4 linked regions of the Homo sapiens genome follow. The protein of the gene in region 3 interacts with the protein of the main gene of each other region in a pairwise test. Each region holds a gene or a part of one and is shown on either strand. Other genes may lie near its edges. The genes, in order: SMAP1, TBX3, PRR20E and ZNF385C.

Region 1 (7,658 bases), on a different chromosome or scaffold from region 3:
AGTATTCATTAATTTCTCTCAGCTATCTTCTGTAGTTTTTGGTATACAGGTCTTGCACGTATTTTGTTAAATTTATCCCACAGTTTTCATATTGTTATGCTATTATAAATCATAATTTTTATTTCAACTTCCAATTATTTGTTGCTAGTATATAGAGTTACTTTTTCTATAGTCACTTTATTTCTGTAAACTTAATAAACTCAATTATTCATTCTAATAGCTTTTCTATAAATTTCTTGGGATTTCCTACATAAATGATCCCATTGCAAAGAGATTGTTAAATGACTCTTGCATGCATGTATTTTTAAATAGGTCCTGTGAGAAAGGCTAATTTAAGTAGTACTTCATCATCCCATACCATCTTAAATACACCCAACTCTGTACCACTTATAAAAATCTAGATTCTGGCCAGGCGCGGTGGCTCAAGCCTGTAATCCCAGCACTTTGGGAGGCCAAGGCAGGCGAATCACTCGAGGTCAGGGGTTTGAGACCAGCCTGGCCAACATAGCAAAACTCCGTCTCTACCAAAAATACAAAAATTAGGCGGGTGTGGTGGCACACACCTGTAAGCTACTCCAGAGGCTGAGACAGGAGAATCGCTTGAACCGGGGAGGCAGAGGATGCAGTGAGCCGAGATCATGCCAATGCACTCCAGCTTGGGCGACAGAGTAAGACTCCATCTCAAAAAAACAAAAAAAAAAAAACAAAAAATCTAGATTCCATATATAATTTTTATCACAAATCCACTTTGTTAGGCAGAATAATGGCCCCCAAAGAAGTCCTGTTCTATCCTTGGAATCTCTGTGAATAACTTAAGGACACTGAGATGGCAGTATTGTCCTGTATTACCCAGATAAAGCCAAAAGGTCATAAACATGCCAGAGAAGATGTAATGATGGAAGTGGAGGGCAAGGAGGAGCAGAATCAAGGATGACACACTGCTAGTTTCAAAGATGGAGGAAGGAGCCATGAGCCAAGGAATGCAGGTGGCCTCTCCAAGCTGGAAAAGAAAACAGATTCTCCCCTAGAACCTCCAAAAGGAATGCAAGCCTGCTAACACCTTGCCTTTAGCTCAATAAGACTCTTTTTGGACTCTGACCTGCAAACCTGCTAAAATGATAAATTGGTATTGTTTTAAGCCATTCAGTTTGTAGGATTTTTTAATAGCAGCAACAGGAAATTAATATACTGGTGATGATCATTTCACTTAAACATTCTTCTGTTAATTTTTTTGTCACTGTGCACCATCATCACCCTACACCAAAAGCAACTTCCAAGAGTAGAAATGCATGAACTAAATAACGCCCTAGGCTAAACATAATTTTTATGAATTTTTCCTATAATGGAAGATAAAGCTATCCCAAATATTATTTCCCACAGAATTCCCCTTATTTTCTTAAGTTTAGGCTTGAGCTCATCACTGCTCAATGAAAGGCACGCTTTATAAAAGATCAATAAGAGACATCTGAAGGTCTACCATCAATCACTTGGATCTCTAGTCAAATGGAGACCAAAAATTGCTGGGGTATAGGGGCCACAGAGAATGGAAGATTATTAGAATTACTTTTAATTCTCTTTCCTTCGGACCCTCAAGGTCCTCACATTTATCACTCAAAATATATGTAAACATCAAATTAGCATGTTTCCAAGAGCACTTTATCTAAGCTCTGTTTTAAGTGAAATAATTTTAAAAATCACTTCTATATGATACTGTAACTAAATGCCACTCCAAGTTAAACACAGTTCTACCTAACATCTGAGTAACTAAATGCCACTCCAAGTTAAACACAGTTCTACCTAACATCTGAGGTAGAAATACTGACATTAATAGTAAGAAAGCATTACAGTGAAACAATTTTAAACAAAAGGACTCCTCAACCTGTGGGGAAGAGTTGTATGAGTTGTGTGATATAGCTTGGGATAATTAAAGATAATACTAGGTAAATTTGCTCAGCAAGACCTAAATCATCAGTGAAAAGCTTTAAATAAAAACTATAAAAGTTTGATGACAATCCATATCTCAATAGGACTCAAAAAATAAACTCTCAATAATATAATTTTTTAATAATAATAGTAAACACTGACATAGAAGTCACAAGGTATGCGGCGAAACCCCGTCTCTACTAAAAATACAAAAAATTAGCTGGGCGCGGTGGCGGGCGCCTGTAGTACCAGCTCCTCGGGAGGCTGAGGCAGAAGAATGGCATCAACCCGGCAGGCAGAGTTTGCAATGAGCCGAGATCGAGCCACTGGCACTCCACCTCAAAAAAAAAAAAAAAAAAAAAAAAAAAAGAAGTGACAAGGTATGGGATTCAAGAAAGAACACAGACCATACAAGGTTGAAATAAATCTTTGCAATAAGGATTAAAGAGAACAAGGACAACTGGTCACTAAGCAAGTCAGAGGCAAAGCTTGGACTGAATCCTAGCTTTGCTCAACCAAGCTAGTGTTCTTTCAATTCTATCATGCTGTTTCTATGGTTTAAAAAGCCCAGGTAGATGACCAGTATCTGACCTAAGGATATAGCAAAAAAAAAAAAAAAAATTATATATATATATGAAGACAAAACAAAAAACAAAGAAAAACACTAAAGCACTTATCTGTGGACTCAGTAAGTTTCTAAAATAAAGTTTACGCAAGGTGAGGTGGCTCACACCTCTAATCCTAGCACTTCAGGAGGCCTAGGCAAGAGGATTGCTTGAGGCCATGAGTTTGAAAGCCCAAACAACATAGCAAGGCCCCTCCCCACCACACCCAACAAAAAAATTTTTTTTAAATTAGCCATACATGGTGACAAGCCTGTAGTCCCAGCTACTTGGGAGGCTGTGGCAGGTGGATCACTTGAGCCCAGAAGTTAGAGGCCGCAATGGGCTATGATCACGCCACTGCACCCCAGCCTGGGCAACAGCATGAGACCCTGTCTCTATAACAAGGAAAAAATAAATAAATAAAATAAACTTTAGTGATGAGACAAAAATTCCAATTTGTTTAAACTGGTATTTTGAAGTTATGGTGGTTCTGCTATTAAATGCAAGGAGGGAAACTAAAATGAAGATATTGTCCACATTTGAACACATTTGGCAATAATCTGAGAAAAACCTTAAGTTAGCCGAAGGTGACAGTCTTCCCAACAACAATCTCTTACATCACAAATTTCTACAACAAAAACAGGTGTTTTATCTATCATACCATCAAACATAGTTAACAGCACAGACTATATCTCCCGGGCTCAAATCCTGACTCTACAGTTCAGATTCCCACCCCTATCTCATCTCAATAAAATCACAATTTCCCCAGGTTATAAAAGCCTCTAATGTTCATCCTTGCTCCTCCAGACTGTACCCTTATTAGCAGGCTAGGTTATAGAGCCAGCACAGATATACTGAGGCTCCAACATGTCCTGTATAATATACTGGAAGAAAATATATATTACCAATTATGCTTTGAGTTCCCCAAGACCACCCTCATGTTCAGTAATTTGCTAAGAAGATTCAAAAGATTCAATATACAGTTGTACTCATCGTTATGATTTATTATAGCAAAAAGATACTAAGCACAATCAGCAAAGGAGAAAGGCACAAAAAGTCCAGGGGAAATTAGGAGCAAGCGTCCGGGTGCTCCCTTCCAGTTGAGTTGCAATGAACACACTTAATTCTCCCAGCAGTGAGCTGTGACCACACATGTAAAATGATGCCAACCAGGGATGCTCATCAGAGACTCAGTGCCAAAGGTTATTAGGGAGACTGGTCATGTAGGTAACCCTGGCTGGCACATATGCCAATTCCAGAATCCCAGAAGAAAAGCAGATATTCAACATAAACCATATTTATTATACAAACAACTTAGGCACAATGACAGACTCATCACTTAGGGTGGTGGGACCATCCCCAAGATTCCCCTCAGATGTCAGCCAACCACCGCAAGGCCTGCTTTGTTAACTCTTTTCTCCACACCAATGACTAACAGATCCTTTTGAGCATGAACCTTATCTACCTATCCCCTGCTAATCCCCAGGTCCTAAGAAAGTGCCAGTCACTCCCCTCCAAGTTGTTTTTTTCTTTTTTTTTTTTTTTTGAGATGGAGTCTCGCTCTGTTGCCCAGGCTATAGTGCAATGGCACGATCTTGGCTCACTGTAAGCTCCGCATTCCGGTTTCAAGTGATTCTCCTGTCTCAGCCTCCCCAGTAGCTGGGATTACAGGAGTGCACCACCACACCCAACTAATTTTTGTATTTTTAATAGAGATGGGGTTTCACTATGTTGGGCAGGCTGGTCTCAAACGCCTGACCTCAGGTGATCCACCCACCTCGGCCTCCCAACATGCTGGGATTACAGGTGTACACCACTGCTCCAGGCCTCCTAAAATTTTTTTAATGAAAAAATTTCTGGCTCCACTACTTTAAGTTCTGTGTACCTGGGTAATAATATTACCTACCTCAAAGGTTGTTTTGAAGATTATATGAGTTAGTATATGTAAAGTGTGAAGTACATCATCTCTGGTAAAAAAAAAAAAAAAAAAAAAAAAAACACTATATAATTTGTGAGTATATATGTAATGTTATTATTTGCTTTTTTTTTTTTTTTAACATTCTCCAGGTCACAATGGAGCTACCCTATCTCTAAACTTCTAATGAATCTACCAATGTAAACATAGATTAGAAGTTAACTGGTAATTGTTTCATGTCTACTGAGATCTCTAACTAGCTTGTAGACAACTATATCCAAAACTTTTTGTTTTTGTTTTTTTGAGATGGAGTCCCACTCTGTCGCCCAGGCTGGATGGAGTGCAGTGGCGCCATCTCGGCTCACTGCAACCTCCGCCTCCAGGGTTCAAGCAATTCTCCTGCCTCAGTCTCCCGAGTAGCTGGGACTACAGGCATGTGCCACTGCACCTGGCTAATTTTAGTATTTTTAGTGGAGACAGGGTTTTGCCATGTTGGCCAGGGGTGGCCTCAAACTCCTGGCCTCAGATGATCCACCTGCCTCAGCCTCCCAAAGTGCTGAAATTACAGGCATGAACCACTGCACCCGGCATCCAAAACTTTTTTAACACACACAGTAGTATCTAACGTAGTACTTAATCTTTTTAGTGCCCAGAAAATATTGATTTATCAACAAAATTAAATGTCTGTTAAATCAACTCTTTACAGTGGTAAGAATGTAAGGCGGTCAACTCTTCTGATAATAACTACAAAATGGCCTCCAAGTTTCTTTGATCTTCTTTCATTGAGAAAATTGAGAAACTGAACTAAAATGGCTTAATTCTAATCCGTGAAAAGACGATTAGTAGAAGCGTTTGAAATAAGCAAAAGGGGCTGGGTGTGGTGGCTCACACCTGTAATCACAGCACTTTGGGAGACTGAGGGAGGCAGATCACTCGAACCCAGGAGTTCAAGACTAGCCTGGGCAACATGACGAAACGTGGTCTCTACAAAAAATACAAAAATTAGGTAGGCATGGTCGCACACATCTGTAGCCCCAGCTACTTGAGAGGCTGAGGTGGGAGGATTGCTTGAACCAAGGAGGGAGAGGTTGCAGAGAGCCTACATCGCACTCCAGCCCAGCGACAGAGTGAGACCCTGTACCAAAAAGAAAAAAAAAGAAAAAAAAAATGCCAAAGCACTTTTTTGAGTTTATAAAGTATATCGTTTTAAACATTCTACTTTGCCTTAAAGAGAGCATGGATTCAAGTCTGTTATAGGTTAATAAAGGTGGAGAAAGATATATATATATATCTTGTACAGCAACAATTTAGGAGATGTAAGCCTCCTTAATTAATGAAGTCAAGTACTGAAAGTTTTATCTTAAACAAACAAACAAACAAACAAAAAAGACAAAGAAGAACTGTGAAGAACAAAAGGAGGGGAGACAACATGCAGCCCAAGTTTTAAACTGATGAGTCAGAGACCAATGATTTCCATCTCAGCTCTGATACCAGGGCTCTGCCCAATCAGGAAAAACCTCGAGATCAGCAGAATTACAAGAACAACAGACCCATCAGACTGAAGTTTCACATTTTGAGGAAACTTTTAGATTGGCAAATTTCTTTAGGTGAATTATAATCAGACTTTCACTTATATAAATTTGTCCTATAAGCATCAACATCATAATAAACACCAGTTCCCCAAGGTGAACTTTACTTTTTAGTAAATATTACTACACTTTAAAAGTAACAACTCTAAAATATCAAAGACTTAATGAAAAACATGAACTCTTGGATTGGCTCTTGCAATCAAATGGGCTCTACACGTTTCTACTTTTTGAAAAAGTTAGAAAGCTAAAAGACTCCCTTGAAGGCAAGGTATTGGACATAATTAGGATCTGCCAATTATCTGCACATGGAAAGCACAAGTGGGACAGAGGCCACATTCCTACAGAAAGGGCAACTAACAAAAAACGTCTACAGACACTAAGTGGTTGCAGCTCCATAGGCCTTATGCCCCCATCAGCATACCAGTCTCCTGGGTGAGAAGCAGTTATGACAGTGGGGCAGCGGTAGCAGTGGTGGTATGTGTGGCCTTGAAAGCAGTTCAGCAGTGGCTCCCTGACTTTCCCTCCTCCAGCCCTTCCAATGACTTGGTAAGTACCTGATTCCTGAAAATAGCTACAGTGGATCTCTTTCCTGCTCTATACCCTGACTTATATATTGACATTGTGTGAATTTAGGTCCTCTTGCCCTCTTCTTGGACCACTGTTCAACATCTCCTAACTCAGGATTTGCCTGCAATCCTCACTATCCCAGTTCTTCCTCTGACCTGAGACTACCAAAACTGATCATGCTTAAAGAAAGCTTATCTAGTAAGGGCCGTATGGAAACTTCTTCTGTTCTTTCATACTGGTACATGTGTGTGTGCAGCTGTGTCCTTTAATTCCTTCTCTATCTGATGAAATCCCACTCCACCTTCAGAACCTAGCTCAAATGAAGACTCCTTCTGTGACTGGTCCCAACAGGGTCACTCCACATGCCACTCCCTTTCACAGGTGCACTCCCTTTCACACACCCTGCTGCCTGCCAGGGGCTCTGTGCTCATTCATTCACACATTCATTCATTCAAAAAATATTTGCTAAGTTACATTTGCCTACCACATGTCCTGAAAACTGGGGATACTACCCTAACCAAGATAAACAAGGTCTCCTCTCTTACAGCTATAATCCAGCAGGGATACAGTGTACCCCATAATTACCTAAATAATGTTTAATTACAATTGTGATAAGTGCAATAAAAGATTCAGGGTGTTGTCTTTTATGTATAAACGGAAGCCTAACCTAATCTCAGAGGATCAAGGAGAATTATTTCCCTTGAAAAGACATTTAAGCAGGAATTGAAAGATGAGCAAAAGCTGAGCAGGCAAAAACTTGTTAGAAAGCTTCCCAGGCAGAAGAACAGCACGTGCAAAGGTCTTGAAACAGCATTCTAGGAACTGTAAAGACCACCAATGGGCAAAAGTCAAGGTGCAAGGGGAACAACAGCCCAAAATAAGTATAGAGGTAGTTATTTCTTAAAACCATTATTACAAGCACTTAGCACATCGTTTTAGAATCATTTATTTGCAAAAACACAACCCACACTAAACAAACTCCTTTAGGTCTTACAAATTTTTTTAGCTCTCTTACCTAATACAATATCTAACAGTGTGTCTTCAAGTCAAGATCTGCGG
Region 2 (7,658 bases), on a different chromosome or scaffold from region 3:
CTTAGATGGACAATCCCCTAATCAGTAGCTCTTCTTATTTTAATGAATTTTACTTCTTTTTTTGAGTTCCTACAGTGGCAGATTTCACATGCATCTCCCCATTCGATTGCAAATTAACTTTTTAAAAGTAAAAAGTAACATTAAAACTCACAGCTGGAACATATTCTAATTACTATCAAAAAATCAGTGAATGACAGAGAGCAGCACCTTCCACAAATTTGTGAATTACTCTGGAAGGATTTGTTTGGCAAGAACCCTGACATCTGAATTGATAATGGCAGAACGGACACCTGTCCTTCAACACCAGTACTCAGTTGAACCGTTTGTATTTGCCCCAGTCCCTGCAGAGAGAGATGAGTGTCGGACAGATGGCTCACAGCCCGGGGACGATCATAGATTCTTTTTTCGCTTTTACCACACCCTCTGTGGGTGTTCCACCAGAAGAAAAGAAAAAGGGATCCTATTTTATGTTTAAAGCTTAAATGGATTGAAGACATAAAGGACTTGCATTTTATTTCACTAAAAAACAGGTTTCTTCCCGTTGAGAGTGTGTGTGTGTGTGTGTGTGTGTGTGTGTGTGTGTGTGTGTCTTTCCAAATAAATACTGCTTGCTCTTTAAACACAGGTAACTGAGGGGGGATTTGAGCCATCTTGTCCACTCCTCACCCACCTCCCCCAGCTCTACCCCCACCGCAGATCCCCAGTGCTCCACCTCCTCTCCCAGGTCAATTGTTGCTTTATAGCTGGATGTTTTCTAGGCCACCTTCTCGGTTCCAGGTGGCAGAGTCCCTTGCTTCCCCCCCACCCAGTCCAACACATTGTAACCTAGAGTTCAAAGACAGTGAAAAGTCAGCAGTTGGAGCCTCTGTTGGTTGGAGAGAATGGGAGGAGAAAGAAACAGAGACAGAGAGAAAAGAGAGAAGCGCTTCAAGCAAGTTTTCAAAGCTGCTTGCCAAGAGGTAGTATGCAAACAGACACCCACCTCCCCTCCCCACCAGCCAAATAAGGATCTGGGAGAAAGGCCTCTGTGCTCTCCTTCTACTGCCTTAGCGGGGAAGGGGAGACACACCTGATAGCCCTTTTTGAACTCTGGCTTCTGTTTAAGGATGTTTAGAAGGCTTCTAGCTTTTAAAGGGCAAGTGCCCTGGTTGGTGCCCCATCCCCCTTCAACTCTTCCAGGCCACGAGGGACTGGAGTCCAGTGATCACAAAGGTGACATGGTTTACCTTTGAGGTTCGATGTCCCTACAGTGGAGGCGGCTGGAGAAGAAGCCTGGGCGAAGCAGTTGAAAGCTGCTTGTTCACTGGAGGACTCATCAGAGGTCCCATTCTCCTTTTTGTGTCTTTCATCAAACACCCTCATGGACTGCAGGGTGAGCTGTTTTCTGTGGCAGAAGCCCACACCCAGGTTACAGAATGTAACATACATTTCCCCTCTTTGTTTCCCTTACCCTTTCCAAAGCGGCACACACATACCTCACACCCTGCCTGCTGCCCAGGGACAACGCTAATTCACTGAAATCTGCTTGCCCCAGGGCAGCCACATAGACCCAAGCTTTGTCCTTGACCCTCTAACTGGGCTGAAGAGTGTGGCAGAGGGTTAGGGAGAAAGGAAGGAGGCTTCAGTTGCATTTATTCAAGATGGGGTTTCATTAGGAAAAGGCATTTGCTTGGGCTGTGAAATTTTATTTAAAAGCAGGAGAAGAGGCTGGATCTAGTCAGAGACAGCTGGACTGCCAGCCTTATATAGGGAGAACCGGGTGTCCAATCCTGCAAACACAACGCTGTCTGTCCCCAGCATACCCAAATTTTGGATGGTGGCTAAGATTGGGAGGAAGTGGTTATTTCATGCTGCACTTTACTGTAATCGTTTTACTAACAAATTAATTGGAATAAAAATATATTTAGCTGTTAGCAATTATTTTTTAATGCCCGCCCCAAGGGGATAGGTTAAAAATTTGGGGGTGATTTTCTGGATTTTAGAAATTCTTTGAAAGGGGGTGGGGGAGGGGAGACCCTCTTTCATATACTCTCCAGCTGTCTACGTAATGCAAAATGATACATGTCCCCACGAAGGAGGGAGAGAGCCATACATCTTTCCGAAGTCCCCAGCTCTGTCTGATGGTATTTGGAAGACAGGATTGCAAAAATTCCCAAGTATTTTCTCAATGGCATGGTTCTTTCTGGGACCTGCCTAGGATGAACTTAAATTAATTAGGAATTAATAGGCATCCCTGTATAATCTATTATCCCTGATGCTTCTCTTCCAGAGATAAGTATGGTGTAGCCTAGTTAATTTCCTTAAAGGTAAGGAGGTAGGAAAAGTACTTGTCCTGGGTATACTGATAGCGGCAAGCATGTAGCAGTGGGGAAAGTGAATGATTTCCACCCGCTCTTAGGATAAGTGCCTGCATCTCACTTCTAACACTTCAGAGTTGGATCCTAAAAAAAGGGATTTTTCTAAACTATCTAATAAATAATTGTTTCAACTCACCTTTTTTCTCTTCGGCCATTTCCAGTGTCCCGGAAACCTTTTGCAAAAGGGTTGTTGTCTATTTTTAACTGGGTTATCTATTGGAAGAGACACAAGCAAGACAGAGACATTGTTCTCATTTTCTAGAATGTTTTGAGGGTGTTTTTCCCAACTCAACAAGTCTAGAGATGTGACTGCCAACAGAAGTCATATAGATATGCCAGGGAAAGGAGATAATAAGGAAACTGTGGCAGGGCTTGTATCTCCTATATGAGGCCAAACCAGGGATTTGGGGATGAAATTATTCAAAGAAATTCTTTTCTTTGGGCAGCCAACAGTTTGGGTTTAGACATGGAAGTGTTGTCAAAGTCATCAAGAGGGAAAACCTGTAGATCTTAAAATTATGCTTTCATTTTGATTTTTATACAGTGCAATTAATCATAAATTATAGCATACTCCCTTCACACACACACACACACACACACACACACACACACACTCCTTTTCCATGAATCCAATAAATGATTTATGGGGTTTCACTACCCTTGTGCGGGAGTGAGTGCGGGAGTGAGTTTAATTTTTTTTTTCTTTGCCTGGGGGGTGGTTTGAGGAAATTACAATATTGACAGTTACAGTACTGAATGACCACTGGAAACATCTGTTTTCATTTATATGCTCTGCCATGGCCATTAGGTGGAGAAGGCCCATGGCCTTTTTGTCTGATCAAAAATGCTACATTTTATTATTACATTAACAACTTCATTTCACAGGATTCTGGGTCTAGAGGGCACATGCATTTTGCACTTTGAGAAAAATGCTATAGTGTGTAATCTTTCAAATCCCTTCCCCTTGGTGGGAAGAAGAAGTTATATACACAGAGTTACTCAGAGGTGGAAAGGGGGACCCTTGGTTGGATTCATGTTCTTGGAATAAATTGCTCTATTGAAGACTTCAGGTTTCACAGGGAGAGAAGATCATGTTTTGGTATTCACACTAAAGAAATTTAGCTGGAACATCCCCATCATGAAGTCCACAGAGGACCCAAGGACAGTGACAATGACAGTGAGTTCAAAATGAAGTGTGTTGTCAGGTAAAATGGACTCTCTTTGAAGTCCAGGATTGCAGAGCAGGGGTCTTCAGTCCCTCCTCCCACCCCATAACTGCTAACAGCCAATCTGGGAACTGGTGAATCAGCAGTAAGGGTCACTTTTTCTGTGCCCATGACCTTCAGGCCACCATAGCTCTAGATATCAGGTGCTTTCCCTTTTGGGGATCCTTCTAACCTCCAGATTCAGGCCTGGGGGAGGGGGGGAATTCAAATGAAGTGGTGACTTTGGCCACCCCAACTCAAAAGCCTCAGACAACTCGATTAATATGACCCTGTGATCAGGGTAGGTTTTTCCAACCACACGCATGCATGCACACACATGCACACACACACACACATCATAACACAGCAGCATAAAAGGTAATAAAAACCAGACCAGCTACTCAGGATTTCTGGCTAGGGGAGAAAAGCTGGTCTCTACTAGGATTCTCCTCCCAGGATCCCAAATGGCTTTTGCCTTAAATTTTTAGCTGGTTCCTTTTGAATGTGACTTCTTGATCCTTCTTCCCCAAGGGGAAGAAGATGAACCTTAAAACAGACAGGACAAAGCCCAAGAGGGGGGGAGGAGTGGGTGGCATCAATGACAGCAGTTCTAGGAGTTTCTCTGTGGCAAAATTAGTATGGCGTTTTTTTGCTCAGCATTGTTCCTACCTAGTCAAGGTGTTTTTCTGTCTCCTCGAGGTGTCATTGTCCTTTCCCCCCAAATGCTCCACAAATCACAAAAGACAACTCAAGACTCTCGTCTCCACTCTCTTGTAACTTTCTCATCCTGACTTAAAGCAGCTTTTAAGGGGAAGGCAAAATATCACCATTAAAAAGGAAAGCCCCTTGAGTTTACCTTATCATTCTGGTATGCAGTCACAGCGATGAATTCAGTTTCGGGGAACAAGTATGTCCGAAATGTACTATAAGGGAGTTTCAAGATGTCATTGGCTCTTACAATGTGGAACCGGGGCTGGTATTTGTGCATGGAGTTCAATATAGTCTGCAGGGGCAGGGAAGAGGAGACATACATAAAACAAGGATTTAGCAGAACAAACGGGATCTTAGGACCCCTGCCAGGCTGAAATCTTCCCCACCGCAGGGTACCACGCTTGTACCGAGCCCACCTCCTTGGAGTACCCCCTGGGTACGTTTCGCTCCACAGATGTTATCTTCTGGAGAATCCAAATTGCTCCTCAGTTGCCAAAGGGCCCCCCCCACCCTCACCATCTAAGGATCATTCATACCTTGAACCCTAGCCTACCTGAGTACCAAAACTATAATTCCCCTGCCACGTAGCGTGATCACTTGGGAAGGCCAAAGTCTTAAAAGATAGAGAAAAACATGCATTTTAATTTACAAAATGATTCAGTACTTTAAGCGCCCACTAATTGACGAGCCCAATCCACTTAAAGCCCTGAAAGGCTGAACTCTAGAGAGGAATATTTATGCCTTAATCAAATCAAGGGCTTCAAATGCAATTCCTGCCCGCTGAAGATATTTCCGCGCCATTCGCGTCTTCCTGGGCCTAATCTTTCTGCTTACTCCTTGCTTATCACGCTGTTTATTTTATTGAAATGTTGGGGAGGGGTAGGAAAAGGCGCAAAAGGTCCTTTGCCTGATATCTACAAGCAATGAAAGTTTTCTAAGTTTCTAAGCACTGTCACTGAATCCATATATACACTCCCAACACACAAACCATTTTTTTCTGAAGATCTAAGCCTCATTTAGGGTAAGCCGGACTCCCACCTAAGCCCAATTCTTTTTTTAGTAAAAGAACGAGTTTTTAAAAATGTATTCACACCATTTAACCAACAGAGTCAAGGCTCCGAAACGTAAACTCTCCTGAGAAAATAATATCACTGGTTTCAAAACAGAAGTATGATATTTTAAAACAAAACAAATCCTTTAGGAATACATAGCCTTGAAATTGATTTTAGCTCTTAAAAAATGGTTTTTAACTTCACTCTCAGGTCAGGAATCTACCAAAGAGCTGGAATTGCTATAGAACACAAGCCGGTAAGTTTTCTTGCCCCATTTCTTTTAGAACGCCAGGCCTTCCATTATTTGGAGAGAAACACCCCGAATCCTTTTTCCAGACGAGGACAAGTTTGCTATGCTTAGGGAGAAGCAAAGGAGAAGTCTGGGCTGAAACTCATGAAATGGGAAGCACTGCCTTTGACTGAGTGAAGGAGGAGAAAATTTTACTGAAGAGAGCAATGAAACTTACAAATCCATGTTTGTCTGAAATGTTGTTGGTGAGTTTCAGTTTGTGGAAAGTGACGACTTTGGACATCCACTGTTCCCCAGTAGCGGGGCTGTCCGGGTGAATGTACATCCTCTTTGGCATTTCGGGGTCGGCCTTACCAGCCACCATCCACCGAGAATTGTGAAATTTATAACGACAGTCATCAGCAGCTATAATGTCCATCAATAAAATGTATTTGGCTTTTTTATCCAGCCCAGAACATCTCACTTTAAATGGAGGAAACATTCGCCTATAAAACGAAAGAATAGAAAAGAAAAAGAAAGATAAACCACCCGTAATCTTGGGTTTGATTTCCTATGTATCACATAATATTGAAACCAAGTCTAAGACTTTATATTGTGACTGATAAGCTTACATGTTTCAGAGTGAGGCAACTGGTTGCAAAATCGTTTTCTTCCACAACTAACGTATTAAATATTCTCAGTTTCGCCATATTTAGACGTCCCAAGGTTCAAAACAAATGCATTGTGGCACTGCAATTCTCTACATTGTCTAACAATTTCTTCAATATTTTTTTTGTCCTTGCTTGACTTTACAGATTGCCCTCCTGAGAGCAAATTCTTGCCCATGTCTTTTTCTGTGGGTATCTAGATCTAAACAGGTTGGGGTAAGATTTTTGTAAAGCGCGGTCAGTTAAGACTAGAATTTTCCACCACCCATTGATGAGAAAATGTTAAACTTATCAAGGAAATGAACGTCAAGTTGCACCCCTCCCTGCTGCAGAATAGCAATCCCGCTGTGGGCGAAGTGAAACTGGACTTCAGTGAGTTCCCAGAACGAATTTTGCAGACTTCGGTGCACTCCTGGGCCTGATAACCGATCTGCCCGTGGAGCTGCTAACACATTCCCCCACTTCTTAGGCCAGTCCAAAACCGCAAGACTGTGCCACCACATTGCTGTTAATTTCACAGAAGGGTTGGCATTCTGTAGTCTTGACTTAAAAGGAAGCAAGGAAGCACTTTGCTGGAAAACTGACTAAATGTCTTGTGAGTTTGAGGAGGATTTTATGCCAAACTTTGGCCTCATTTAGCTTGGAAGGAGACAGAACGCTTAAGATATCATGAAGGGGATTTTATTTTTGTATCAACTTTATGCCTTTACAGGCTTCAATGCTATTACAAAAAAAAAATCAGTGATTTTAAATGACTATTACAGGATCTTCTCTTCCAGGCAGGTTTTGGTCAGGCAAGGACCTTTAAACATTATGTAAAATATGGTTGATAATATTCACACATTAAAAAAAAGGTGTGTGTCTCCTCACTGGCTCCTTAAGTCTGCAAACATAATCTTAAATTATGCAAAATTGCCTGCTGAACTCGCCCTTGGGTTACAGACACGTGAAGTAGTGTGGGCAAACAAACCAAAATGCCCTTCGATTTCTCTCTGACCAGGGCAGCAGCAGGCCCCTTTAGACCCAGAGGCTAGACTGGAGGGCAGAAAGGGCCGGGGAATGGTGTCAGGCCTCCCAATACCCACACAAAAGGAAAGGGCTTTAAGTTTTTCTCTCTGAGAACAAAATAAAACAGACAACACAACATCAACAAAGAAATAAGGATGTTCCAGGAGGGTTTGAAGAGTGAGTTTCTTGCAGTAGAGTGCCTTTTTTTTTTTTCTTTCCTGCTCCCTGCAGGGATGTCTGTGCTCCACTGAAAAATTCTGTCTGTTCGGGAGGGAACCCAGGATGCAGACCAAATGCAAGACCCATGCAGATGCCCAGGTAAGCTGAAATTTCCTGCCACCGGGGCAGGGCCTGGAAGTCTGTGCATACATTTCTAGGGGAACTAACTTTTCGTCCAAGCCGTAATAACCGACCAACCGACTGTTCTG
Region 3 (8,363 bases):
TTACAGAGACGGGTTCTCGCTCTGTAGCCCAGGCTGGAGTGCAGCGGTGCCATCTCGGCTCGCTGCGGCTACTTGGGGGGGGGGGGGGGGTGGGGCGGGGCTGAGATAGGAGAATCAGTTCAAGTGATTCTCCTGTCTCGGCCTCCGGAGTAGCTGGACTACAGGTGAGCGCCACCACATCGGGAATAATTTTCGGATTTTTTTGGAGAGACGAGGTTTCGCTATGTGCCCAGGCTTGTTTGGAAGGCCTGAGCTCAAGCCGTCCGTCCCGCTCAACCTCCCGAGTCGCTGGGACCCCAGGCGCAAGCCACCATGCCGGGCCAATTATTTTTTTGGGTTGTATTTCCTGTTGAAGTGAGGTTTTGCTATGCTTTCACCTCACATACCTTTTCTGTCCCAAGACCCCATCCAGGGTACCACCTTACAACTCGTCACGGTTCCCCTTGGCTGCGACGGTTTCTCACACTTGCCTTGTTTTTGATGACCCTGACACTTTGAATACTGATCAGATATATTGTGGGATGTCCTCTCCTGAAGTTCGTGTGATGTATTCCTTGTGATCTGACTGGAATTATATGTTTTTGTCAGGAAGATTGCAGCGGGAAAGCGCCATTCCCATCCCATCCTGTCTAGAGTACACACCATCAAGCCGGCTTATCACTGCTGCTATTAGTCCTGGTCACCGGGCTGGGGCAGTGTTGATTAGGTTTCTCCACCATAAAGTGATTTTCCCACCTCTTTCTCTACTGTGCTTTCTGGAAGTCGCTACCTGTAGCCTATACGTAAAGAAAAGGGAAGTTTTGCTTTATCTCCTTGCAGGGGAATAGCTACCTAAGTTCTGTGGAGTTCTCCTGTGTGGAGGATTTTCCCATTCTCCCCCACATGTTTGTTTATTTAATCACTTATTTATATCCGTATGGACTTATGGACACCTATTGTATGCTTTGGTTTACACTCCAGTACTTCGGGGGATGAATTATTTAATAATTGAACTAATTATTTTGTCAAATATTTTACTTAACTATTTAATTATTAATTATTTAGCTAATTACTTTGTTACTCAACGTTTCCAGCTTTGGCCACCGGGAGCTCCTTTAGTTGGCTTCCGTGTCCCTTTGTCAACCTCCCATCGCTGTGGCTTTTGGCTTTGTTTGGTTTTGGGCGGCTCCTTTCTCCCTGGCACCACAGGATGCTCCATGCTTATTTGCATATTCTCATCCTTATTGGGATTTCGTGTGCTCACTGACCGAACCCATAGATTCTTCTGTGAAGTTTCTCTTCAAAACTTTTATCTTTCTTATTGGGATAACTTCTCTCTCTCTTTTTTCCATTTTGAGACAAAGTTTTGCTCTTGTCACCCAGGCTGGAGTGCAATAGCATGATCTCGGATCACTGCAATGGCGCAGTCTGGGCTCACTGCAACCTCCGCCTCCTGGGCTCAAAGGATTCTCCCGCCTCAGCCTCCCGAGCAGCTGGGACTACAGTGGCCCACCACCATGCCTGGCTAATTTTCCTATTTTTATTAGGGCGAGACATGAGAATCGCTTCAGTCCCGGGAATGGAGTTCTCAGTGAGCCGAAGCCACCGCGCTCCAGCCTGGGTGAAAGAGTGAGAGTCTGTTTCAAAATAAATAAATAAATAAATGAACGAATAAATAAACCAGGAGGAATTACCAAGGGCTCTTGGTGCCTGCCTGCAGTCTGAGCTACTTGGCAACCTGATGTTGGAGGATCACCCGAGCTGAGGAGGCGCAGGCTGCGCTGAGCTGTGATTGCACCACTGCACTCCAGCCTGGATGACGGAATGAGACCCTGTCTTACTCCACGTACCAATGTTTAGTGAAGCATTCTGGTGGTAGAAATATCCTGGAAGTAGCGTATCAGCAGACCACCACCTGCATAATGTAAAAGCTGTGCATCTTTCCAGACAGATATACAGCAAGAAGATAGTGGCACATGTGCGTAGGATGACTGCAAGGGGGCTTTCTGGCTTATGGATGACAGACCCCAATGGCAAGCCAAGAAGCAGCTCCCACTGCACAGTGCTCATTGTGCTCCATGCCATGCTTCAATACGAAGTCGCCTGTTCCTAGTTTGGAGACGCACGGACTCCACAGAGGCTCTGGTCCTGACCACACCTGTGTTGCCTGCCTGGACCTTATAGTCACTTCAGCAGGACCCCTGGCGCATGGCACGCCAGGTGTTTGTAAAAGCGAGCCACAAACGATGCTCTCAATGTACACGTTTGTTGGTGTAGACTTGTGTGACTATGGGGAAAGATGCGATATGAATGGAGAACAGAGACTGGAGCCATTTTTCTACCTTCCTTTCTGCTTTTAGTAAACACATTTTGTATTTGCGATTTGTGAAAGTTTAGTGAAAGAACTGTTCTATAAAATAAGTCTGAAGAGAAAGGTTTATTTAGAAGGATTGAGTACACAAGAGAAAAATCTTTGATGTAAAAAGTTATCTGTATTTTATTTGGACGTTTACAAAGGAGTGAAAACCAGCCAACAACAGCCTACCTAATAAAATACAAAATACAAAAGTTCATAATACAACATTTATCAAACTCTGAAAAGATGGGAACTAACTCAACTTAAACATCTAAGAGACACCTACAGCCAACATCTTGGTTAATGGTGAAACATTCAAAATATTCCCATTAAAGCCAGGAGGAAGCCAAGGACACTGCCGTCAAATTACTGATTCCTGGTTTAGCGGTTCCAGTGAGTCATGCACTCTCCTTGCTTCCGTTAACCGCCCCCCCCCCCACCCCAACACCTTTTGTCTGATTCGTCACATGTCCTTTGATCCCCTTTTTCCTCAATCTGTTTGAAATTTTACCTTCTATTCCAATTCATTTAGTGGTTCCCAAAGGGTACCCACGTTGAGACTTAAAAATGTGTCAGTCTAGATTTTTATTGCTCTTATATTCAGCCAGTCTATCGTCTCCAGGCACTAGAGAAGCACTTTAGTAACTTCTAGCTCCTTCTGAGTTTTCGCATGTCCCACATGTCTATATGAGTGTCTTCTGGAATTTTAATTCTAGGTCATCAATCCTTTTTCCAGAATCGTACTTCTCTGGACTTAAGAATACAGTTTCCTAATTTCCATGCTTAGTGATCCTTGTTGCATCCCACTTCTTCCAGGTTGTCTGGGTTGGCTTCTTCTTGGCTGAAAAACGTGACGTGTACTTTCACTGTACATGACAGTTCCATTCCAATCGCCTTGTACAGAAAGGGTGTTTGGCAGCTTGCATGTTGTAAGTTGCGTACTCCAAGTTCAGGGGAAGCTCAGGCTTCAGGTCCAGTCGGGGGAGGAGTGGAGCAGAAGTGGGGCTGGGGGGAACGTCCAGGTGGAAGGAAGGGAGGCTGGGAACAACGTGGGTGGCAGATAGTGGTCAATACGCAATGTCGGTGAGGAACACTGGGACCCCTTGCACGTAGGTGCCCTGGGGGGTTTGAATGACTTGTAAAACCGCTGAGTCACCCAGAGCCCTAAACCCGATGCAGGGATAGAGGGTCAAGACGGGTTGCCAGTCAACAGCCTGAGGCCCAGGAGCAGCGGGCGGCTCCTGAAACCCCAGCTCAGGTTGCGCCACGTCGGGGCCAGGGCCTTCCTGCACAGTTCCAGGCGGAGGACCTGTTTCAGAAAGGGAGAAGGCTGCGGTCTCCGTGATTTCCGGTTCCCCCTGGTGGCCTGGCTCTCCATGGTGGTCCAGTTGGATGTGCACGTCCGGTGCCATCAAGCCTTCTGCCCCCTGTCTCTGGCCAGCGTCCCCGCGGGGCCCAGCCCTTCTGCCACGGCCTCGCCCTGGCCGCCGGCTTCCTCCCCGGCGCCGGCCTCTCTCTGCAGGAGGGGGTGACTCTGGGCGAGCTGGGGGCTGCCGTCTGAAGGGTTTCACGTAAGCGATGGGTTTTGCGGGTTGGGCTGGCTGTGCGGGCCCATCTGCTTCCACGGAGCCTTCAGGGTCCGCAACACAGCAGCCTGGCTCTGGAGGAGGCCCACCTGAGGCTAAAAGAGAAGCGGAGCGTGAGCAGAGAGAGACAGAAGGAACTTCACCCGTCAAGCAGTTATAGGATACTTTTACAAATAAATACTCAGAGAAAAGAGGGATTTCTGAAGTTAAAATTGTGAGAGAAGAAACAAAACTCTCCACGGAAGTTGGAGAAAGAAGTTGAGAAGGTCTCCCACAGAACAAAGCAAAAACCTAAAATGATGGAAAGAAGGATGAAATATAAGAGAATTAGAGGTATGCTGTGGCTGAGACATTTCACCAGAAAATTTCAGAGTGCTGAGGAAAAAGAGAAGATTCTAACAGATTCTAGAGAGCGGGAGACAGAGAAAGGAAAAGTCACATGGAAAGGGCTAGGATTCCACATGTCTCAAAAGTCAGACATCTCAAAAGCAGCAGTTCAGTCTAGAACATAACAGAAAATGTCTTCGAAATTTCAAGGGAAATGAATTTCCCACCTAAAATTTCCTGTCCAACCGAAGTTTCGCTGAAGAATCTGGGAGGGGAGAATGAAGATGTTTCAGACAAGCAAGATGTTAAAGAATTTCCTTTCAGTGGATGCTTTATTGTTATGCATCTGTCAAACTAGACAAGATTAAAAGATTTAGGACACTCAGCGTATGAAGGGAAAAGTTTTGGAGAACAACGTGGCAACAGCCGGAAAATTCCAACTCCTCCGGGAAAGAACAAGGTGGAAGTACCGGTTTATCATAGATCAAGACGTAGCGTGAGGACTCGCTCTGCTACGGAGAAACAGTAATACAAAACTAAACAGAAGGAAACAGCGACAACAACAGCAAATCTCAGATTTGGGAAATGGGATTACGGTTCGGAAGAGGGAAAGGAATTTCCCAGATGATGTGGAACCCGGGAGCTGACTTCCAACAAGCAGCCCAGGTTGAGGCAGGCTAGGAGAAGGTGAAACAGAGAATGCTTGATTGAGTTTGAGTGTCAACCATTGGGGAAGAATTGGGGAACAGACGAAATTAAAAAGAGAGGAGTGGCAGGCGTTTGATGTACCTTGATTAGGGGCCATGGAGCGAAGTCGCTTCGAAGGCCTTGGTTCCTCCATGAGCAATCGGCGGGAGGGGCTGGGGAGAAAAACAAGAGAGCAAGAACGGATTTAGGAAGACAGAGGTGACAAGGCAGGGGGATGGCCGTGGCCTTTCTAGGGGAATGAGGATTCTGTCCCCAACTGCACCCACCCGAGATCCGTCCACGCCTCCGGGACCCCCAGACACACACCTGATCTTCCCACAGCTGGCTCCGGAGATCTGAAAATTAGGAGACTCTTCGACGAAGAGAGGCCCGAGGAGTCGGAGGTGTCCACAGGTTCACCGCTGTAGCTCTGAGGTAGTCCACCCGCAGCCAGGGAGTCTGGAGGGAGCACGCAGCAGGTTCTGGCTCCGAGCCCAGCAGAAAGCCGACTGCTGGAGGCCGAGCGCCGTCCCTCTTATATGGCAGCAAGGCAGTCGCGTAAGGGACAGGCGTCGTCAGAGGGGGGCCGGCTGGGGCGGGCCTGGCTGGGCTTGCGAGGCGCATTGGGCCAGTCCCCTGCCAGTCAAATGGGGGCCCTTCTGAGATGCCGCCATTTCTAGACGTCCGTGGTTGATTGATTAATCTAATCATCGAGGAAAAAAAATTGCATAATGACCTCTGAGTGTCAGCACAATGAGGTGTGGTGCCCTGAAAGCGGCTGACAGGAAGATGCGATTAGCTTAGATCTGAGCATGGTCAAGGAAAGCATCCAAAGCGGGGATATCTGGGCTGAAATCTGGAACATAACGTTTGAAATTAGTCATCCTGAACCGGGTTGGGAGAGGCAGGGAGGGAGGAAGGGGAGTGAAGAGAGTGTGCTGAGGCCCGGACTGGAAGGGAGCCCGGCACATTCTGGGAATGGACGGGAGGCCAAGTCCAGGCCCGGAGGTGGTGCGAGGTGGAGGCAGGGTCCGCGCAGGAGCTGGTCTTGTTCCAAGGCAGCGGAAAACCGTGGAACGGTGTCCGGCAGCGGGTTAACATTTCAGAAACGACCAGCCTGGCTGTGAAGGAGCGCCAACCCAGGGTCCGCAGAATAAGTCAGGAGAGGCAAGAAGGCTATTGCAGCCCTCGGGGTTGGGCGCAGGGTGCTGTTAGACTGAGACTCAGGGAGGTAGAGGAGGAGAAAGTTCCCTGGTGGGAGAGAAATTTCCAAGAGAAAGCGAGACCCAGTGTGGACAGCCCTTGAGGAAGAGACTGCGGCCTTGGTAGCCCGCCGGTTCATTCAGGCAGAGGTGGACCGAGAACCTGCTCTGAACGGGAAGTTGCGGAGCTTGGCTTGCGCACATCTGGTTGAAGGGGCTTTTGAACTGCCAAGTGAGGATGTCAAGTGGCCTTTTGTAAAAAGAGTCGAGCTCAGCGCGATGGCGACGGGGCTGGAGATGCGTGTGAGACCCACACCGCTGGCTTTTATTGCTGTGGGTGCACTCACGGGTGGAGGAAGACAGCGGGAAACACAGCAGGACGCTGGAGGGGATCCCACAGTGGGTTATTTGGTTGGTTTGCATCCTTGTGTCTTTTACAGAGACGGGTTCTCGCTCTGTAGCCCAGGCTGGAGTGCAGCGGTGCCATCTCGGCTCGCTGCGGCTACTTGGGGGGGGGGGGGGGGGGGGGCTGAGATAGGAGAATCAGTTCAAGTGATTCTCCTGTCTCGGCCTCCGGAGTAGCTGGACTACAGGTGAGCGCCACCACATCGGGATAATTTTCGGATTTTTTTGGAGAGACGAGGTTTCGCTATGTGCCCAGGCTTGTTTGGAAGGCCTGAGCTCAAGCCGTCCGTCCCGCTCAACCTCCCGAGTCGCTGGGACCCCAGGCGCAAGCCACCATGCCGGGCCAATTATTTTTTTGGGTTGTATTTCCTGTTGAAGTGAGGTTTTGCTATGCTTTCACCTCACATACCTTTTCTGTCCCAAGACCCCATCCAGGGTACCACCTTACAACTCGTCACGGTTCCCCTTGGCTGCGACGGTTTCTCACACTTGCCTTGTTTTTGATGACCCTGACACTTTGAATACTGATCAGATATATTGTGGGATGTCCTCTCCTGAAGTTCGTGTGATGTATTCCTTGTGATCTGACTGGAATTATATGTTTTTGTCAGGAAGATTGCAGCGGGAAAGCGCCATTCCCATCCCATCCTGTCTAGAGTACACACCATCAAGCCGGCTTATCACTGCTGCTATTAGTCCTGGTCACCGGGCTGGGGCAGTGTTGATTAGGTTTCTCCACCATAAAGTGATTTTCCCACCTCTTTCTCTACTGTGCTTTCTGGAAGTCGCTACCTGTAGCCTATACGTAAAGAAAAGGGAAGTTTTGCTTTATCTCCTTGCAGGGGAATAGCTACCTAAGTTCTGTGGAGTTCTCCTGTGTGGAGGATTTTCCCATTCTCCCCCACATGTTTGTTTATTTAATCACTTATTTATATCCGTATGGACTTATGGACACCTATTGTATGCTTTGGTTTACACTCCAGTACTTCGGGGGATGAATTATTTAATAATTGAACTAATTATTTTGTCAAATATTTTACTTAACTATTTAATTATTAATTATTTAGCTAATTACTTTGTTACTCAACGTTTCCAGCTTTGGCCACCGGGAGCTCCTTTAGTTGGCTTCCGTGTCCCTTTGTCAACCTCCCATCGCTGTGGCTTTTGGCTTTGTTTGGTTTTGGGCGGCTCCTTTCTCCCTGGCACCACAGGATGCTCCATGCTTATTTGCATATTCTCATCCTTATTGGGATTTCGTGTGCTCACTGACCGAACCCATAGATTCTTCTGTGAAGTTTCTCTTCAAAACTTTTATCTTTCTTATTGGGATAACTTCTCTCTCTCTTTTTTCCATTTTGAGACAAAGTTTTGCTCTTGTCACCCAGGCTGGAGTGCAATAGCATGATCTCGGATCACTGCAATGGCGCAGTCTGGGCTCACTGCAACCTCCGCCTCCTGGGCTCAAAGGATTCTCCCGCCTCAGCCTCCCGAGCAGCTGGGACTACAGTGGCCCACCACCATGCCTGGCTAATTTTCCTATTTTTATTAGGGCGAGACATGAGAATCGCTTCAGTCCCGGGAATGGAGTTCTCAGTGAGCCGAAGCCACCGCGCTCCAGCCTGGGTGAAAGAGTGAGAGTCTGTTTCAAAATAAATAAATAAATAAATGAACGAATAAATAAACCAGGAGGAATTACCAAGGGCTCTTGGTGCCTGCCTGCAGTCTGAGCTACTTGGCAACCTGATGTTGGAGGATCACCCGAGCTGAGGAGGCGCAGGCTGCGCTGAGCTGTGATTGCACCACTGCACTCCAGCCTGGATG
Region 4 (7,658 bases), on a different chromosome or scaffold from region 3:
AGCTGATCTATGCTGAGAAAAGTCAGGATCGTATTTACCATCAGAGGGGTTGTAGTTAGTTGAATAGTGTCTCCCCCAAAATTCACATCTATCTGGAACCTCAGAATGTGACCTTATTTGGAAACAGGGTCTTTGAAGATAAAATTAGTTAAGATGAGGTCATGCTGGGTTCGGGTGGGATTGATCTAGTGACTGGTACCCTTATAAAAAGAGCTTGTGGAAACACAGGGACACACAAGGGAGAATGTGGAGATGGAGGTGGAGATTGGAGTGATGCGTCTATAAGCCAAGGAGTGCCAAGGAATACTGGCAGCCACCAAAGGCCAGAAGAGAAGCATGGGACACTTTCTCCTCTAAGCCCCCAAGAAGGAACCAATGCTGTCAACGCCTTGATTTCAGACTTCTGGCCTCCAGAGCTGTGTGAAAATAAATTTTTGTTGTTTTCAGTCACCCAGGTTGTAGTCTCTTTTTTTGGGGGTGGGGGTGGGCAGGGGAGGTTAGAGACAAGGTTTTGCTCTGTCACCCATAGCTCACTGCAGCCTCGACCTCCTGGGCTTAAGCAGATCCTCCTGCTTCAGCCTCCTGAGTAGCTGGGACTACAGGTGTGCATCATCATGCCTGGCAAATAAATTTTTTGTAGAGACAGGGTCACACCATGTTTCCCAGACTGGTCTCAAACTCCAGGCTTAAAGCAATCCTCCCGCCTCAGCCTCCCAAAGTGTTAACCATCACAACATGTGAGCCACCATTCCTAACTTCACAAATGAAGTCATTTGTGAAGGCAGCCCTTGGAAATGAATACTTCAAGGTAATGACCAGGAGGAGGTGCAAGACAAGCTTCTGAGGTGCTGGTAACGTGTTTCCTGATCTGGGTGTGTTCAGCTTAGGAAAATTCATGGCGTGGTACACTTGTGTGCCTTTGCCTGTCTGTATGGAATACTCCAACACAAGCAAAAAGAATAAGCAGAAATCTCTCAACCCCTTGTCGGAAACCAGATTTGGAGTGGAGACGTGGGAAAGAGAAGAGCTCAGGACTGACCTTTACTCTGTGGCTCTCCAGGGGCTCCACTGGCCAGCGTTGGGATTGGGGACACTACAGCCCCATCCTGGGCCTGGGTGTGTGGCCTCTGCTTGCTCTTGGCAGCCTCGACAGCCTTGAGTTTTCTGGCGTGTTTGTGGCCTTTATAATGTGCCTCGGCCTGGTTCTGGGGAGGGGAGGGCAAGAGGTCACCATTCACTGGCTGAGTCCACATGCCCCATCTGTGAACTGGAGCCCAGCAGGGGGACAGGTCAAAGGGAGGCAGGGCTCAGGTCACACAAAGGGCAAGTCCTTGTCCTTGTCATCATCATCACCATAGCACATGTGGCTCTGAGGTTTGCAGAATGTGTTCTCGCACATGAACTCCAAGGCAGGCTGCCTCTGGCTTCAGATCTGACCCAGCCACTTACTAACCACATCTTTTTGTTGTTGTTGTTGTTGTTTTTGTTTTTTGTTTTTTGAGATGGAGTCTCGCTCTGTCGCCCAGGCTGGAGTGCAGTGGCGCCATCTCAGCTCACTGCAACCTCCGCCTCCCGGGTTCAAGCGATTCTTCTGCCTCAGCCTCCGGGGTAGCTGGGACTACAGGCGCCCGCCACCACACCCGGCTAATTTTTTGTATTTTTAGTAGAGACGGGGTTTCACCATATTAGCCAGGATGGTCTCGATCTCCTGCCTCGTGATCCACCCGCCTCAGCCTCCCAAAGTGCTGGGATTACAGGCGTGAGCCACCACGCCTGGCCACTAACTACATCTTTAGGCAAGTAACATCTCTCTGAGCCTGAGTCTCCTCACCCATAAACCCTGTGATGATAATACTGACCTCATGGGGTTGTCAGAATTACATGGGAACATGAATTACAAGGGCCGAGTACATAGAGTAGGTGCTCAATGAATGTTAGTTATCAAGTGTATCAATGCACAAATGGAGAAAGCAGAGCAATCCCCACACTTTGGGGTGTATGTACCCCAGAACATTCATCCCTTTGTTCATTTGTTCAACAAGTCATTACTGAGCATTTGCTATTTGCCAGGCACTGTGCCCGGGGTCCGGCAGGAAGAAGAATGGTTCCTCCCTCAGAACGAATTCTCTCCTCCATCTTTTTTTTTTTTTGAGACGGAATCTCGCTTTGTCACCCAGGCTGGAGTGCAACGGGAGCAATCTAGGCTCACTGTAACCTCTGCCTCCTGGGTTCAAGCGATTCTCCTGCCTCAGCCTCCCGAGTAGCTGGGATTACAGGCACCTGTCACCACAACTGGCTGCTTTTTTTTTTTTCTTCTGTATTTTAGTAGAGATGGGGTTTCACCATGTTGGCCAGGCTGGTCTCTAACTCCTGACCTCAAGTGATCCACCCACCTTGGCCTCCCAAAGTGCTGGGATTACAGGCATGAGCCACCACGCCCAGCCTCTCCTCCATCTCTTGCAGGACTCATGGAACCAGAAGGCCTGAAGGGAATCCTCAAATCTGGTCTGTCAGTGTCCTCCCTCCAAGGGTCCTCACTTGCTGCTCCCCGGCCCACCTCCTTGAAACATGGGAAAGACAGGCCCCCATGGCCCCTCCCTGGATGCTATACCACAGCAGTTCTGCTGGCATCCAACCGAAACCCCAGATTGCCTAACAGGAGGTAGACCTTCCCTGGGAGGCCAGAATGAGGTTCCTCCTCTACCTAGTGGTAAGATGTAGTAGAAAGGGGTAGGCTGTAGTAGAAAGTCATAGACCTTGGGGTCAGCCAGGCCTGGATTCATATCCCAGCTTTGCTACTTACCAGCTGTGTGGTCTTAGGCAAGTCACTTAACCTCTCTAAGGCTCACTTTCCTCATCTGAAAATCGGGGATTATAATAGCGCCTCTAGGCCAGGCGCGGTGGCTCACACCTGTAATCCCAGCATGTTGGGAGGTTGAGGTGGGTGGATCACTTGAGCCCAGGAGTTCGAGACCAGCTTGGGCAACATGGTGAAACCCTGTATCTGCCAAAAATATAAAAAAATTAGCCAGGCGTGGTAGCACATGCCTGTAATCCCAGCTACTAGGGAAGCTGAGGCACAAGAATCACTTGAACCCTGGAGGTGGAGGCTGCAGTGAGCCAAGATTGCGCCACTGCACTCCCGCCTGGGTGACAGAGTGAGACCTTGTCTAAAAAAACAAAACAAAACAAAAAAATCCCGCCTCCACCCGTCTCACAGATGTATCATGAAAACTATTATTTAAGGGGATGGGCATGATCACATTCTGTAAACTCTCAGGTGCCTTAAGAGCTCAGCTCCAGACCAGGAGCTGATGAGATGGGCCACTGGGACCTGGAGTGGAGGAAGGGCAGTCTTCTCTCTTGCAGAAGGATCCAGAACACAGGAGAGAGGCCTGGGGGGAAGGAAATGGAATCCCACTGGGCTACAGCTGGGCAGAAGGGGAAGGGGCAGAAGAATCTAGAGAGAGGAGAGGATGCGATGGTTAAAGGACCAAGAGTGCCTCTTCTGCAGCCAGGGTGGAAAATACCGACCACAGCCCCTTTGCCACTGATATTCCTCCCAGAAGGACTCTGAAAGCCCAGCCTCCAGCCCTCTCCCTGCCCAGCCCCCTCCCCAGACCTGCTTTCACTACTTTGTCTCACCGCTGAGTTGAACCTCAGGTGACAGATGTTACAGGAAATGAACAGCTTCTTCTTCAGAGGGGAGGGGACACCAAACGTGTGGCTGATGACAGCTTTCTGGACCGGGTCCATCTGTGAAGGGAGTGGGAGGGCATAATAACTCTGGGGTTGGCTTGGGAAGCAGGGGTCGGGGGCAGCACAAAATGCCCAAAACTAAAGATGACTGAAGAGGGCCTTGGTCAGCTTCTAGGAAGAACTTTTCCATCCTGTGGATGTTGGAAAGAGAAACAGCTGGGCCAGGCGCGGTGGCTCACACCTGTAATCCCAGCACTTTGGGAGGCCGAGGCAGGCAGATCACCTCAGGTTGGGAGTTCAAGACCAGCCTGACCAACATGGAGAAACCCCATCTCTACTAAAAAAAAAATACAAAATTAGCCAGGTGTGATGGCGCATGCCTGTAATCTCAGCTACTCGGGAGGCTGAGGCAGGAGAATTGCTTGAACCAGGGAGATGGAGGTTGCGGTGAACCGAGAGCAGGCCATTACACTCCAGCCTGGGCAACAAGAGCGAAACTTCGTCTCAAAAAAAAAAAAAAGAAAAGAAAAAGAAAAAGAAAAGGAAAGAAAGAAGAAGAAACAGCTGCCTGGGTGCAGTGGCTCACGCCTGTAATCCCATCACTTTGGGAGGCCAAGATGGGTGAATCACCTGAGGTCAGGAGTTCAAGACCAGCCTGGCCAAGAGAAACTCCTTCTCTACTAAAAATACAAAAATTAGCCAGGTGTGGTGGCACGTGCCTGTAGTCTCAGCTACTCAGGAGGCTGAGGCAGGAGGCTTGAACCTCAGAGGCAGAGGTTGCAGTGAGCTGAGATTGCGCCACTGCACTCCAGCCTGGGCAACAGAGTGAGACTCTGTCTCAAAAAAAAAAAAAAAAAAAAAGAGAAGAGAAAAGAAAAGAAAGGAAAAGAAAAGAAAAGAAAAATACACAGCCTCTCCCGGCTGTCTTTATTTGTCAGCCTAGGCTTCTGCTTGGAAGCAGGGGAATGGCCAGAGTGCCCTGCATGTTTCTGGGACATAGAACCATGTCCTGGTGATCACCTTGGCATCTCTTGGTGCCCCTTAGGTCATTATTTTTGTTTTTTGTTTTTCTCCTTTGCAATAATTACAACTATTGGGACAGAGAGTTGGAAACAAGGAGAGGCAGGGAAGAGACAAAGAACTCGTCTGTTGGAATTTCCTCTCCCATCACCCAGGCTTCATGCAGGGACCTGTGGGCTGGGGGAAGATAAGTCCTATCTCATCAGCTCTATCACTGTCACAGGGCCTGAGGCTGCTGACGACCTTTTTTTTTTTTTTTTTTTTTTTTTATAAGATGGAATACTGCTCTGTCGCCCAGGCTGGAGTGCAGTGGCATGATCTCAGCTCACTGCAACTTCCACCTCTCAGGTTCAAGTGATTCTGCTGCCTCAGCCTCCCGAGTAGCTGGGATTACAGGCGCCCACCACTACGTCTGGCTAATTTTTGTTATTTTTAGTAGAGACAGGGTTTCACCATGTTGGCCAGGCTGGTCTCGAACTCCTGCCCTCAAAATGATCCGCCTGCCTTGGCCTCCCAATGTGCTGGAATTACAGGTGTGAGCCACCGTGCCCAGCCATGACGACCTCTCTTGAGAGAGTGAGAGCCACAGCCAGGGGAGGTGGGGGGCCAGTAGGGGGCAGGGAGCAGCAAGTGGAGGCCTAAGGTTCCCCAAGGAGTAGGATCGTTTCTTTGGAATATTAATTTGGATTTTTTTTCTTTTCCTTATTATTTTTTTGAGATGGAGTCTCCCTCTTGTCGCCCAGGCTGGAGTGCAATGGCGGAGCCAAAATCTTGCAACCTCCGCTTCCTGGGCTCAAGCGATTCTCCTGCCTCAGCCTCCCAAGTAGCTGGGACTACAGGTGCCCACTACCATGCTCGGCTAATTTTTGTATTTTTAGTAGAGATGGGGTTTCACCATCTCTGTTGGCCAGGCTAGTCTCAAACTCCTGACCTCAGATGATCAGCCCACCTCAGCCTCCCAAAGTGCTGGGATGACAGGCATGAGCCACTGCACCTAGCTTCTTTTCCTTATTTTAAATCATTTTTTTCTTCTATAGAATTAAGGCTTTATGTTCCCTTTTCTCAGGAAGTTGGGCCAAATGCAGCTGTCTGAACTTGTCAAGAACTTTCCAGGCTGGGCGTGGTGGCTCACACCTGTAATCCCAGCACTTTGGGAGGCCGAGGTGGGAGGATCCCTTGAGCTCCAGAGTTTGAGACCAGCCTGGGTAATATAGTGAGACCTCATCTCTGCTTATATAAAAATAAAATAAAATAAAAAAGGAACTTTCCAAACCTTCCCAAGAAAAGAAAACAGAGCTTAGAGAGAAGAACATGGGTGCAGAAACTTCCCTGAGAACAGAAAGTGGTTCAAATTTTCACAGCACCCAGGGCCAGCAAGGGGCTCAGGGGACAGGACCTCAGAGGAGAATGGCCTGCAGGGGCCCCCTGCAATTGGAACCATGCCATTCAACAGTGAGCCTGTCAGCAAGCGACAGCAAGGACTCAAGACCAGAGGACCACCCCCCAAATGCCTCAGACTCCTTAGGACCTCTGTCTAACTCTGGAGGGTGGGAGGGAAGGGATTCCTAAGTGTGACTGAGGTGGAGTTTGCCACCATCTGCTCAGGATGGGGCATGCCACACCCATGATTTCACTTGAGTTTTCAAAATTTAAAAAAACAGAGATGGTTGCTGATCCCTCATATAGTGAATTAAAATTCATATACTTGTTATGCACACGTGTACAAGGAAATGTACAGACTAGGACACACACACAGCACAGAAGCTTCAGGCAGTTACAAATGCTCAGACAAGCAGAACAATTCACACTCATGCACACAAAGGGCACATGACCACAGGTAAACTCACAATCACCCAAGCCACACAAAAACACGCATGCTCAGAGGGCAGATACACGCCAAACACACAAAAGACACAAGGACACAATAAACCCTCAGATTGTGCAGGCACATACCTTAATTACATAAAATTACCCATGCACAAAGAGTTGTTTACAAACACACGTTGGACACCAACACACAAACTCACATCCACATATAACATACAAAACCTATAGAAACTACAACAAAAAGGCACAGGTTACACACACACACACACACACACACACACACACACACACACACGTCATCCACAGGAGCGCCTACACAGAAGCTTAAGTGGAATGCACAGACTACAGGCCCTTGCAGGCCCAGCAGCTATGATGGTGGGGGTGGGGAAAGGGCTGACACCATCTTGTTCCCCAGCCTAAGAGAGAGCGGGTCCCTCTCTTAGGATCCCAAATAGGGGTCCCTATTTGGGGAGCACCTATCCCCTCTGGGGGATGTTGGAGAAAAAGCTCCTGGTTAGACCCAGCTGCTGAGAGCTGGACCCTCTGAACCCACCTTCTGTGCCCACCCACAAGCTTGTGTGCATGCCCCCACCCGCCAGCCCAGCCCATACCGTGCTGAAGTTGGGGAAGAGACTGAGCGGGGCAGCGCCATTGAAGTGGAAGGCGAGCAAGTGCTTGAAGTCCAGCGGGGGCTGCAGAGGCCGGGTGGGCAGGGGCAGGGAGGCCAGCAGGGGGCTGGGGGCGCCGGAGGCCGGGCCTGCTGCAGGAGGAAGAAGGGCAGGGTCTGAAATGGGCTCTGTCCTACCCCCGTGGCCAGAACAAGAGGCGGGTGGGCTTCTTGGGTGTGGAGCTGGGCAGAAACCTGTGTCTCTCTTCACAGAGTGGCACCAGCCAGACCCATAGTGATTATAGCCCCCTTCTCTGTGCCCTTCCTCCCCACAGCTGGGGAAGCAGAGGCAGGGAGTCCACAGTTGAGGCTCCCAGCCCAGAGGGATGACCCTCCTGCCCCTACTGAGGCAGCATACTGAACCCCAGGGCAGCCCAGCCAAGAGAGGGACAGAGGGGTCTGGGCAGGCCCTGACACACACACCACCATGGAGACTGCATGATGT

What was found.
Region 1: the proteins of PRR20E (region 3) and SMAP1 interact in a two-hybrid assay, tested with the Homo sapiens proteins (one large-scale study listed by BioGRID).
Region 2: the proteins of PRR20E (region 3) and TBX3 interact in a two-hybrid assay, tested with the Homo sapiens proteins (one large-scale study listed by BioGRID).
Region 4: the proteins of PRR20E (region 3) and ZNF385C interact in a two-hybrid assay, tested with the Homo sapiens proteins (one large-scale study listed by BioGRID).

The regions. Positions count from the first base shown.
Region 1 is NC_000006.12:70,672,067-70,679,724, reverse strand, and holds part of SMAP1 (stromal membrane-associated protein 1), read right to left. Parts: intron 1-7,658. UniProt on the Homo sapiens protein: GTPase activating protein that acts on ARF6. Plays a role in clathrin-dependent endocytosis. May play a role in erythropoiesis.
Region 2 is NC_000012.12:114,675,087-114,682,744, forward strand, and holds part of TBX3 (T-box transcription factor TBX3), read right to left. Parts: intron 7,549-7,658; exon of another isoform or gene 7,206-7,548; intron 6,061-7,205; coding exon 5,793-6,060; intron 4,887-5,792; coding exon of another isoform or gene 4,827-4,886; intron 4,566-4,826; coding exon 4,419-4,565; intron 2,571-4,418; coding exon 2,494-2,570; intron 1,385-2,493; coding exon 1,227-1,384; intron 1-1,226.
Region 3 is NC_000013.11:57,164,310-57,172,672, reverse strand, and holds PRR20E (proline-rich protein 20E), read right to left. Parts: upstream 5,477-8,363; 5' UTR 5,263-5,476; intron 5,109-5,262; 5' UTR 5,090-5,108; coding exon 5,038-5,089; intron 4,017-5,037; coding exon 3,403-4,016; 3' UTR 2,455-3,402; downstream 1-2,454.
Region 4 is NC_000017.11:42,030,580-42,038,237, forward strand, and holds part of ZNF385C (zinc finger protein 385C), read right to left. Parts: exon of another isoform or gene 7,653-7,658; intron 7,307-7,652; coding exon 7,158-7,306; intron 3,757-7,157; coding exon 3,646-3,756; intron 1,206-3,645; coding exon 1,040-1,205; intron 1-1,039.